Regions from separate parts of the Homo sapiens genome. Here regions 2 and 3 are each reported to be linked to region 1. Evidence: microRNA targets listed by miRTarBase, many of them from high-throughput screens and not tested one by one. Region 1 holds a microRNA gene; each other region holds the end of a gene's coding sequence. Distances are from middle to middle.

Evidence for each region. Region 1 holds the annotated microRNA hsa-miR-5010-5p (AGGGGGAUGGCAGAGCAAAAUU, at 2,863-2,884, shown strand). A microRNA usually pairs through its seed, bases 2 to 8, with sites in the 3' UTR of a target mRNA and lowers its output. Matches are read on the target gene's strand: a 7mer-m8 pairs with bases 2 to 8, a 7mer-A1 pairs with bases 2 to 7 and ends in A, and an 8mer does both.
Region 2: the mRNA of NCR3LG1 is a reported target of hsa-miR-5010-5p. The part of its 3' UTR that is shown has no 7-base or 8-base seed match.
Region 3: the mRNA of UBTF is a reported target of hsa-miR-5010-5p. Seed matches in the 3' UTR shown: 7mer-A1 at 3,130-3,136, 7mer-A1 at 3,098-3,104 and 7mer-A1 at 1,908-1,914.

The regions. Positions count from the first base shown.
Region 1 is chr17:42,511,346-42,515,345 of GRCh38, forward strand. It overlaps MIR5010 (microRNA 5010), which reads left to right and starts at 2,843; the gene lies at 2,843-2,962. It overlaps ATP6V0A1 (ATPase H+ transporting V0 subunit a1), which reads left to right. Exons shown (of 22, transcript NM_001130021.3): 20 at 2,516-2,633; 21 at 2,944-3,115.
Region 2 is chr11:17,372,081-17,376,080 of GRCh38, reverse strand. It overlaps NCR3LG1 (natural killer cell cytotoxicity receptor 3 ligand 1), which reads right to left. Exons shown (of 5, transcript NM_001202439.3): 5 at 1-4,000. The coding sequence ends at 3,569. Among named protein-coding and RNA genes, the nearest start is that of KCNJ11, 15 kb to the left of the region's middle.
Region 3 is chr17:44,204,035-44,208,034 of GRCh38, forward strand. UBTF (upstream binding transcription factor) reads right to left here. Exons shown (of 21, transcript NM_014233.4): 18 at 3,830-3,877; 19 at 3,665-3,736; 20 at 3,420-3,563; 21 at 1,006-3,333. The coding sequence ends at 3,208. All of the region lies in intron 1 of ATXN7L3-AS1 (ATXN7L3 antisense RNA 1), which reads left to right. MIR6782 (microRNA 6782) reads right to left here and starts at 3,805; the gene lies at 3,737-3,805. RefSeq lists an enhancer at 2,929-3,429.

The sequences.
Region 1 (4,000 bases):
CAACGTGGTGAAACCCCGTCTCTACTAAAAATACATAAATTAGCTGGGCGGTAGTGGCATGTGCCTGTAATCCCAGCTACTCGGGAGGCTGAGAGAGGAGAATCACTTGATTCTCCTGGGAGGCAGAGGTTGTGGTGAGCTGAGATCGTGCCACTGCACTCCTGTCTTGAAAAAAGAAAAAAAAAAGGAAGAACCTCGATGGAGACTAAAAAGAACTGTCCAGAGAGGTAGGAGGAAAACCAAGGGATGGCAGGTATTTCAAAAAGGAGGAAGAGGCTATGGTGACAGACACTGCAGGAGCATGGACAAGGGCACAGAACATCTGTTAGCTTTAACAGCTGGGCCAGGCGCGGGGGCTCACGCCTGTAATCCCCAGCACTTTGGGAGGCCAAGGTGGGTGGATCACCTGAAGTCAGGAGTTTGAGACCAGCCTGGCCAACATGGTGAAATCCCATCTTTACTAAAAAATTAGCCGGGTGTGGTGGTGCGTGCCTGTAATCCCAGCTACTGAGGAGGCTGAGGCAGGAGAATTGCTTGAACCCGGGAGGCAGAGGTTGCAGTGAGCTGAGATCGCACCACTGCACTCTAGCCTGGGTGACAAGTGAAACTCCGTCTCAAAAAAAAAAGTAACAACTGGGAGGTTAGGGTGACCTTACTAAGTAGAGGCATTTTGTGGAGGAGTGAAGGTGGAAGCCAGGGTGCAGTAGGGTGAGGACTGGCTGGGCAGAGAGGAAACTGAGGCAGAAGATGTGGACAGGGACTCTGCAGCGATTCATGGTTGGTCATGGCCGATTGATACGGGCGTGTGCTGAGTGGCAGACTCATAAGTGCTGAGCTGGATTTCTCACCCAGTCCTTGCTTCTCCTGAGAACACCTGCAGGAAGCTGGGAATGAAGGAGAGAAGGCAAGGGTAAGGCCTGGAAGCGAGGCTTCTCTCCTGTCCTGCAGTTTATTCGGTGGGAGAAACTTGAGGTAGAATAAAAACACTGAAGGGATTGGCTGTAAGGGAGCCCAGTGGTCACTGCCCTCCCAGCCCATAGGAGTAGAGATCAGCACTCCTGGGAGCCATGGACTTCTTCCTCTCAATGCGGGCCCTGGGGCGGCAGCCAGCAGTGGTAGGAAAGAGCTCTTAACCACGGTGTTGGGATTTAGGGAACTCAGGGAACTAGGATTACCCTAGTTTTCAGGGTAAGTAAGGAAGCTTGAAGAGCCTGTTCCGGAAGAAAAGCCCAGAAATAGGCTAGGTGTCGACAGAGGTGAGGGAGAAGCAGACGTTCGCCCAGAGATGGCATGGTGGAGCCAGCCCCCTCCACGCTGGCTGCACCCCTGTGGCCTGGGCTGTTGTGGCTTTACCAGCCAAGCCACTTTCTCCCATCCCCATGTTCTCAGTGATTTCCCAAGGCATTTCTGGTGTCCTTTGGGAGTGGAATCACGTGGGTTTTGAAAGGAACTGCGGTGAAAAATAGACCCTGACCTGAGGGCAGGGGCCGATGGGGAGGCCACTGAGCCCTCAGGAGTGTCTGAAAGCTCAGAAGATTCTGGTCTGGGCTCTGCGGGGGGAAGCCCCATAAGGGAGCGCCTCCTGGTCTTTGGTCAGCTTGACAGAGAGGCCCAGGGAAAGTACCTGGGGCTTCCAGAATATACCAAATTCAGAAGCCCACATTCACCCCTGACTGTGCTTGGAGCAAACCTGAAAGTTCACTCCCAAGAGCTTGTTCCAGCCCATTCCTTTATTCTGGAAATAATTCTTGGTATTGAAAGGAAAACTGGGACAAAGGGAGCTTGAGGAAAACGAAAACAAACAAGAAACTGGAGATATGCTATTTAGTCTTAACCCAAACAGATATGCTGTTTGGCCTTAACCCATGTGGAAATTTGTAAACTTTGTCAGGATTTCCCTGTGCATGGTGGTGAAATCATGTAGGGAAAAAAAAATTCACCGTGTAATCTCTTTAGAAGTCACAAAAGAAAAAGAAGGTTATCTTGCTCCCAAAAGGCTGTAAAAAGAATAAGTAAAGTGGCCATAGAGGCCTAGTCTTCTCAGGACAGTGTCCGGGTTGAGAGTCTGTCTCCTGAAGCGCACTCTGGGGAAAATCCCTTCCTGCCCTCCTGCAGGTCCTTAGGGTCCCAGACCCAGACAGTCACTTTCTCAACAGAGTGCCGTCAACTCAGCACACACTCCTCTCTTGAGCACAGAGCCCCAGAGGGAGAAGAACAAATGTGTTGAAAAGAATCTTATTAAGATGTAGTTAATTAAAATGTAATGTATTGAGGGGAATGGAGGTGTCCCAGGTGAGGGCTAAGTCAGGCAGGATTTTTGGGGAAGGCATTGCCGAAATCACCACCTGAGCTCAACACTGGGTGCTTCTGGCCCCTCCAGAGTTGAGGTGCCATCCATGGGAAGTGCAGTCCCCTGCCCTGGCCCAGGTTCAAAGCGCCAAGTAGCCACAACTCAGAATGCCTGCACGTTCCCCTCCTAGCCTTATATCTTCTCTCTGGTTTCCTCCCACGACAGTTTGACTTTGGGGACACCATGGTCCACCAGGCCATCCACACCATCGAGTACTGCCTGGGCTGCATCTCCAACACTGCCTCCTACTTGCGGCTCTGGGCCCTCAGCCTCGCTCATGCGCGTGAGTACCTCTCTCCGGGCTCCGGAACTCTAGTTTCCCCCTCTGTGGGCGCACTGTCAGTTGGGGGGCTTAAGTCAAATGGAAATTACATGAAGGTTCTGGAATTATTCAGGTTCCTGAACCCAAGGAGAATGAGTACAGACAGGAGGCTCAGCACTTGTGCCAGGTTAGCTCTGCATGGTGGTCCCACTAAGGCAGTGGGAAGCCAGGATCCAGGGAACCCTAGAGCAGGGGGATGGCAGAGCAAAATTCATGGCCTACAGCTGCCTCTTGCCAAACTGCACTGGATTTTGTGTCTCCCATTCCCCAGAGCTGTCTGAGGTGCTTTGGACCATGGTGATCCACATCGGCCTGAGCGTGAAGAGCTTGGCGGGAGGTTTGGTGCTGTTCTTCTTCTTCACTGCCTTTGCCACCCTGACCGTGGCCATCCTCCTGATCATGGAGGGCCTCTCGGCCTTTCTCCACGCACTGCGCTTACACTGGTGAGGGGCAGTGGGGCAGGGCGGGCATGGGGGTGGATGTGTCCTTAGCTGCGGTGAGAGGGCAGCTTTTCTCCCACACACAGCCCTGCAGCTCTGTGCAGGAAAGATGAGCTGGCCCTGCACTAGCTTCACCTCAGGACACCCCAGCACCGGCATTGCCACAGAGTTTCGGAAAATGGTCACAGAAAAGCACAGCTCAGCCTTCCCTAGGCTCTAGGGAGATGTCCCTGGTGAGTGGTGTCAGGTCCCGCTCCCTGCCTTTAGCTGTCCCCAGTGCTCCTGATTTTGGCTTAAAGGGGCTGCTGGGGTCTTAGGGTTTCTGGTTTTCTCTCTGATGTGTAACTCTTCTGTCTTCAGAACAGTGGAAGCAGCTCTGGAATGTATGTTAAGTGCAGGAAAGGCTAGAACACGCTGCACCCCAGCTTTATCCTCTTTGTTCTGTCATTGTGCCAGGGGTCTTTGAGTTGGACCCCTGGCAGCTCCATTGTGGACCGGAGGGATTCCTGGCTCTATAGGGTGGAGGTCGGTACACTCACGCAGCTTCTTCACATGGGCAGGTTTGGGGTGGTTCTGTTTGTTTTCTTTAATGAAGCTTGTGACTCTTAATGGCTGTGTGTGGAGAGAGCATGAGTTCAGCCTCTGGGACTGGGAGAGCGGGGGTGTGGTCTGGGCTGTGACCACCTCAAACCAGCGTTGCCAGATGTAGCACATAAAAGTACAGTTTGGCTGGGCACGGTGGCTCATGCCTGTAATCCTAGCACTTTGGGAGGCTAAGGCAGGTGAATCACCTGAGGTCAGGAATTCGAGACCAGCCTGGCCAACATGGTAAAACCCCGTCTCTACTAAATATACAAAAATTAGCCAGGTGTGGTGGCACGTGCCTGT
Region 2 (4,000 bases), not on the chromosome of region 1:
GGTTTCACGAGTATTAACAACCTATTTGACCATTTTTAGTAGATTTTCTCCTGAGAACAATCTTTGGATGCACTGATGTCTTATGCTTTCCTAAGTGAAAGGCTCAGTGGAGGATTTTAAGAATCTTCCATTGGCTGGAGGCTGGCAAGCGTACTTTGCAATCTTCTGATTGTAACCATCCTGAGGGTTGAAAAGTATACCTCGAGAGGTGGCCCATTCTATCTCTGTAGGGGAATACTGAGGCTTTATTTCCCTTATGTAGCCCTCCCAAATCAGAGGGGCCTCAAGTGTTTTGGGACCTTGGGGCCTTCTTACTGCTGACTTAGCTCTTTGGTCTGCTAGCCTGTTTCCTTTCGCTATTTCATCTACCCGCTTCTGATGCCCTCTGCAATGTCTGACCACTAATTCTCATGGGAGGAACACTGAGGATAATAGCCTGTTGATGTCTTGATGGTATTTAATGCAAGACCCATTAGCGGTGAGGAAGTGCCTTTCCTTTCAGATGGCAGCATGGGCAAGGAGAACTAGAAAGGTACACTTGGAGTCAGTATAAATGTTAGCTGTCTTTCCTTTGCTTAGTTCAAGTGCTCTTGTGAGAGGGATCAGCTCAACTGATTGAGTGTGTGTGCCTGGTGAGAGAGGCACATTTTCAATGTTATTTAGGGTGACTACTGCATATCCCACTTTTCAGACTCCCTGTCCTACAAAAGAGCTCCCATCCATAAAGTGGGTCCAGTCTGGATTTTCTAGGGGAATTTCTTTGAGATCCTCCCTAGCGGCATAGGTTGTACTACAGTCTGTTCACAATTATGTTCAGTTTCTCCAGTTTCCTCTGGGAGGAAAGTGTCTGGGATCAGGCAAGGTCAGGTTTTTAACTGGACTGCAGATTCCTCTAGCAGCAAAGTCTGATACTTGAGGAGGCAGCTGTCTGTTAGCCAGAGACTCGCTTTAGAGGACAGCAAGCCTGCCACATTATTTATGTGAGGCATAAACAGGTTATTCCCCAGGGTTAACTTGGTGGCCTCTGGGACTAGCAGGGCCACTACTGTAACTGCTCAGAGGCAAGCTGGCCATCCTTTAGCCTCCAAGTCAAGCTCTCTACTTAAGTAACCTACTGGCTGTTGAGCTGGGCCTTGAACTTGAATTAAAACTCCCAGGGTCATTCCTTTCCTTTATGATACATAAAGATTAAAGGACTTCCCTACAGAAAGACTGGGGGCTGGTGCTTTAAGCAAGGCTTGTTTTAACTGATTAATGGCCTTTTGACCTTCAGGTTCCCAGGTCAGGAAGTGAGTTTTAGCCACTTGAATTTCTTTTATAAGGTGATATAAAGGGCAACCTATTTTATCATACCTGGGTATCTATAACCTACAAAAACCTGTAATGCCCAAGCATCCCTCAGCTGCTTGAGGGTTCTGGGGAGAGGAAGGGAGGAAATGGGATTAATCCTCTCCTCGCCTAGTGCTCTTGTTCCCTTCTGACAAGACCAGACCTAGGTACTTTACCAAAGTCTGATAGAGCTGAGCCTTAGATTTTGAAGCCTTATATCCCTTTCCAGCTAGGAAATTAAGGAGAGCCTCAGTGCCGTCTCAAGAAACTTCCTCAGTTGGGGCACAGAGGAGAATGTCATCTACATATTGTAAAACTTTAACCTGAGAATGGAAGAATTCGAAGAGATCTCTTGACAATACTTGCCCAAATAGGTGGGGGCTATCTCTAAATCCCTGAGGCAGTACAGTCCAGGTTAACTGGGTGGTTTGATTGGAGGGGTCTTCAAAGGTAAACAAGTATTGGGAGTCAGGGTATAAAGGTATACAGAAAAAGGCATCCTTTAGGCCCAGAACTGTGAACCATTTAGTTCCCTTGGATATTTGAGTTAGCAAAGTATAGGGACTGGGATCTACTGGATGAATCGTAATCACAGCCTCATGAATAAGGCAGAGGTCCTGAACTAGTCTCCCTTCCCCATTGGATTTTTGCACCCCTAATATTGGGGTGTTTCAAGGGCTACTGCAAGGCCTAAGGAGGCCTTGTGCCTTTAGGTTATCAATGCTGGCGTCTAGCCCTTTTCTACTTTCTGGCTTCAGAGGGTATTGTCTCTGGTTAGGAAAAAAAGTGGGATCCTTGAGGTGGATCCAGACTGGTATAGTGGTTATAGTCCGGCCACTTCTTCCCTGAGTTGCCCAAACCTCTGGGTTAATACTGGTTTCCACTAAGGGGAGGCGGAGTTTGTCCTGGAGCCATAAGGATGGTGGCCCCCATACGTGCTGGAATATCTCTATCTAATAAAGGAGTGGGACTTTCAGGCATGACTAAAAAGGCCTGTGTAAACAGTAGGTCCCTCTGACTGCAACTAATAGGTTGAGAAAAATATCAAGTTAAAGTCTTTCCTGAGATGCCCATCATGGTTGTGCTATGGGAGGAACGAAGGCCTGAATTGGAGAGGAAAACAGAAGCCTGGCTCCAGTGTCCAGAAAGAAGTCTACCTTCCTCCCTTCGAACTCCAGAATCACCTGGTGCTCCCGGGTAGTAACAGCAGTCTGAGCCACTGGAGCCAGGGAGTTGAGCCCCAGGACCCATCAGTCCTGCTGGACCATTTGTGAGACTGGCTCTGGACTCAGTGACCTATGCTTCCCAGGACAGTCTGCCTTCCAGTGGTCCCCATTGTATACTGGACAGGGTTGAGGTGGCTTCTTCTTGCTGCCTGGGCAGTCCCTTTTGAAGTGCCCTAGTTTGCCACATTGGTAGCAACTAGCAGGTGTACCTTGGGGATACTGGGTTTTATACAAAGTGGCCACCAGAGTCTCTGCCTTTTTCTTGTGTTTCCTCTCCTTCCCCTGGGCCTCCTCCTGGTCCCTATTATAAAAGACCGAGGTGGCTACCTTCAGGAGGTTTTGTAAGGTGCTATCTAATCCCATGGCCTGTTTCTCTAGCTTCCTTCTGATATCAGGGGCTGTCTGAGTAATAAACTTGTCTTTCAAAATTAGCTGTCCCTCAATTGAATTATTTATGTGAGGTATAAACATACCTAACAGGAGACAAGGAAGTGTGTTTCACTACAGCCTCTCTCAGCCTTTCCAAAAAGGCTGAGGGATTTTCATCTAGTTTTTGATCTATCATGGAGAGTTTGGGGTAATTAAGAGGCTTGGCTCTGGTCCTCTGTAGGCCCTCTAATAAGCACATTTGAAAATGTTTTCTTTGCCACTCATCTAAGGTACCACTGGGGTCCGAATTATGTTGTTCAAGGGGCACTGCCTCGCTTCCTATTGGGTATGTGAATGCTGGTTGTTTCTCACCTTCTTTCCTTATTGAGTGGCTATAGAAGACATGTTGTTCATCTCTGAATTTTTCTGCTGCCTGCAGGGCTACCTGTTTCTCTGTAGTAGTTAAGAGTTTAAGAGCAACATAACATCACCCCAAGTAAGGTCAAACACCTGAGTTAGGTTTTGGAAAGCCTCTATATATCTATCAGGTCATCAGAGAACTTGCCCAGGTCCCCTCTTATTTGCCCAAGGTCCTGTAATGAAAAGGGAACTTGGACCCTAGTGGCACCAGGTCCATCAGGCATTTACTGTAGGGGTAACAGTAAAGTTGGGGGTTGGGAGGATAGAACTGGAGTTGTTGATGTTGTGGCTGGAGGAGGTTCCCAGATAGGGGAGACAGGAAGGATTGGGGCATCCGGAACTGCATCCGAGTGTTCCCTAGGGGTTTGTTTCTCAGACTTTGTGGAATTATCATCTATGGACTTGCCTGATGTAACTGTTAGGAGAGCAGGGTCAATTCTACAACACTGACAAAGATCTGGGTTGTCTCGCAAGGCAAAGAAGGCTTGCACATAAGGAACCTCGGACCATTTGCCCTCCTGTCTGCAGAAAACATCTAGTTGTTGAATAGTATTAATATTAACACTTCCCTCAGGAGGCCAAGCCTCCCCATCCTGCAGCTGGTAAGACGGCCATGCCCGAGTGCAAAAGAATATGAGGTGCTCTTTCTTCAGAGT
Region 3 (4,000 bases), 1.7 Mb from region 1:
GAGGAGTCAAGGCCAATACTCTGCTTTCTAGGTTGAACGACTAAGTGTTTGGTAATCATTTCGGGTCTTGAGGTATGAGATGTCTGCAAGATATCCCAGGGGATGCAAGGGTGTCTACACAGGTCTGCAGCTTGGAAGAGCAGTCTCTGTCGGCACCACCTTTCGGAATGGTTGCATATGCGTGATAATGGGAGGTTGAAGGGAGAGACATGAACACCTGGGATAAAATGAGGAAGAGCTGACACCAACAGAGTAGACCAAGAAGGCAAAAGACAAGACAAGTGTTCACCAGATGTAATGAACATGTTGGTGACCTTAGCAAGGAACCTCAAAGGATGGTGGTAAGTGGGAGGCCAAGAGGCACAACAAGCTTTTTAGCAGTTTGGCCACTATAGGATAGGGGCAAGGGCTGGGAGAGAGTTCTCCGACAGGACCTGGGTCTGCAGCCCTTTGAGGTTCCAGGAACCCAGCCAAGGCCTGCGCAGGAAAGGGTGTCTTCCCTTAATCTCAGAGAGTGAGTCATCTCAGCCCAGCCCAGCCTGCTTCCCATCAGAGGCCTAGATGGTCCTAGGAAAGTCATCCTTAACCCTTAACCTTTAACCTGGGATGGAGCTGAAGGCTCAAAGTGAGAGCGTGCTCCCTCAACTCCCCACGATAAGCCCTACACTAGGAAGGCTTGCATGCCCAGGGCGAACCCTTGACCCTAGTAGCTCATCACCTCCAATTCCCCAAGACCATGTACTTTGGGTGAAAATGCATTTGTTCTCCAACTTCTCAGAATCTTTAGTGGTCTCACAACCCAAGGTGAACAAATGGAATTGAGAAAAGGGCAAGAACAGTAGCACAGAACAATGTGAAGGTAGGTTGCCTATGGAATCTTTAGGGAAGAGGAAGATAGTTCTAGGAAGAAAAGGCAAATTGGCTTCAAGCATTTTTATAGATCAAACCTGTTGGGTCACCCCTGTGAACCTTCATTGATTCCAGTGACCAGACAGCAGTCAAACCTTTGTTTTTCACTTTATTATACAAAAAAGGGAAAACAAAACTTCCACAGTTGGCTTTAAGCATAGGCAGACACCTCTAAGCCACTCCCTCCCACCTCCCATGATACAAATTCAAGTTGTGGTGGTTGTTGAATCCTACAAAACACTCCTTAAATATTAGAAAAGAAGTTGGGGGTGGGGATGGGGGTCTTCCCACCCCAGCCATCCCATCCCAGTGCCAAAATGCACTCAAGAGTGACCTCTTACAGCACCAACACCCCCACCCTGACAGTCCTGTTTGTACTGTAAGAATTTTTCAATTTTTAAAACAGGAAAGAAAAAGTGCCCCATTCAAAGTTGTTTTTAAATGAAAATACATTCCACTGAAACACAACAGTGTAGGGGCATCCAAATAGGAAACTGGGGTTCTTTGCAGGGCTCTTGGGAAGAAATAGAACCTATAAACCCCTGTACTTAATTCCAGGATTAGGACAAAGGAAGGGGAATGGGAGTGGGGAGTGTCCCCCCCAGGCCTCCCCACCCCCAGCACCAAGGTCCAAGGCAAAGCAGAGACTGTCTGCCTTCCTTTGGGAGAGGGACCCACCAGCCTCTCTGGGACCAGGGCCCTTCACCGTTCTTGCTCCACCTCCGCGGCAGAGTTCCCGCTCTTCCCCCATTCCTTGGCTTTCATTCAGAGGGGGAAGGTGGAAAAGCACCAAGCCCCAATTTAATAGGTCAGTGACATGACCATAAAAAAGAACCCCCCAAATTTAGTCAACAAAAAAATAAGAACTACAGAGATAAGGTGGCTTGGCTTATTAAGAGTCAAGGAATCAAGGTACCAAAAAATACGGGAGATGGCTGGGAAGAGTTAGAGACAGCTGCAGATGCAGCTTTTGCAGACTTCTTGCCCAGCTGTGGGGTTGGGGGAGGAGGGAGCAGACCTGAGAAATTAAAGGAAATAGGGGGTGGTGGGAGGATTCAAGGAAGGCTGGAGGGATGTGTAAGTTAGGAGCTCCCAGCACATTTCTTGAAGCCCAGGTTCTGAGCCTGGGGTGGCCAGGCTTGGCCTCTCAGATGAACAGGGGAGACCTTTTCCATCAAATACAAGCTTTAAGCTTCACACCATCTTGCCTGCCTTTCCGCCTTCCTGCTGGACAATGGAGACCAGCAGCTCGGATGCATGTGACTCTGGCAGAGGGAGCCTGGTCTGGGAAGCATCCGAGAATGGCTTCAGCACACTCCCCCTAATGGAATCAGAGACTGGGCAAAACAGAGGATGTGGAGAACGGGGCAGCCTCAGCCTGCTCCCACCAGGGTCAACATCTCCCGGCCCTCACCGACCCTTTTTCCAGATTCACAACAAACTGATGTGGGCTCTAGGACAGACCCCTTTACACACACACACACACACTCACACTCTTTTGCACACATCCACAGCTGCACCCATGCTATGTACAGGAACACACATACACATACTCTCTTCCACATACATCAAGACCATTTTTAAAAGGTTCCAAATCTACCCCTAAACCCTCCCTCTCCCAGAAATGACAACAGAGACGGCAGCCGAGATCGGTAGGAAACGTCTCGTTGACAGCTCAGAGCTTAAAAAAAAATATATACACATATATAAAAAACACTTCTGCCCCCTCCCCCATGAACGGGTCCAGGCAGCTCCTTCCTGCAGGGGGCAGGGGAGAGGGCCACCAGGGCAGTGCCTGTTTTCTTGAAGGCACCGACCCTCCTCCTCCCCATGTTCCCTGCCTCCAGTTCCAATGCAGGGGTCCAGGTGGCAGGCCCCTCTGGGAAGGAATGGGTCTTCCCCAAGCTTCCACCCCACCTTGGATTGGGCCGCAGGTGTGGAGGGCCTCATCAAACTCTTTGGGACCCCCCACCCCCACTCTCCGGTCCATTGTCCATGCCGGAACCGCAAGTGCAGAAGTGGGTGGGGTGGGCCAGGCTGGTCCGGTGCTGGCTTAGTCTGATAGTTGCTGTCCCTGGAGGAGGACCCCCAAGGGCTGATGTCTCTGAGGCTGCAGAGTCCTGGCCTGGGCTCCTCCAGCCCCCTACCCCCACCGTATTTTTTTTTTTTTTTAAAGAAAGAAAGAAAGTGGGGGAGGCCAGGGGGGCAAGGGACAGAACATGGGGGAGAAACAAAGGTGGTCAGTTGGGGAGGGGAGCTCCTGGGCTCTCCCTGGCTGCCCTGGGGTGGGGCTGAGCCTCAGTTGGAGTCAGAGTCTGAGGAGTCCCCTGAGGAGGAGGAGCTGGAGCTGCTGCCCTCGGACTCATTATCTTCATCCTCATCGTCATCCTCGTCGTCGTCTTCGTCCTCGTCATCCTCTTCATTCTGGGGGGTGAGAAAGGATGTGGAGTCACCAGGTGGCCCTCCTGGCAGGACTCCCCTCCCCTCCCACTGTGCCCTGTCTGCCCCACCTCATCCCCATCCTCGCTCTCGTCCTCGCTGCTGGACTCAGAGGAGTCGCCGCCATCTTCAGAGGAGTCCCCATTCTCATCATCTTCCTCTTCTTCATCCTCGTCCTCGTCATCCTCATCCTCTTCATCATCCTCCTCGGACTCCTTGGAGGGATGGAGGCACATCAGTGGTCTCTGGTCTCTGCCCAACCATTCCAGGCAGTGCCCCCCGCCCCACGCCCCTGCATCTGGGAGGGGCTCCTTACCGACTTGGACTGCAGAGTAGTCCGGCTGGATTTGGGGTTTGGGCCTCGCAGCTTGGTCATGCTCTTACGTTTCTGCAGGATGGGGACACAAAGGTGGCAGCCATGAGTTCGACACCCCTGAATTCCCCCACCCCTACCCCACTGCTGCTCTGCTCCCAGACTCACATTGGAGATGTACTCTTTATATGCTGCACGGTCCTGGGGAGACAGGCTCTGGGGGAGACAGAAGCGGCAAGGGTTGGAACATAGCCAACTACTGCTGACTGAGCATGCTGGCCCAGTGCTAGGCAGTGGGCTGAGCATTTATATATCATCACCCCATCTTACCCCTCCCAG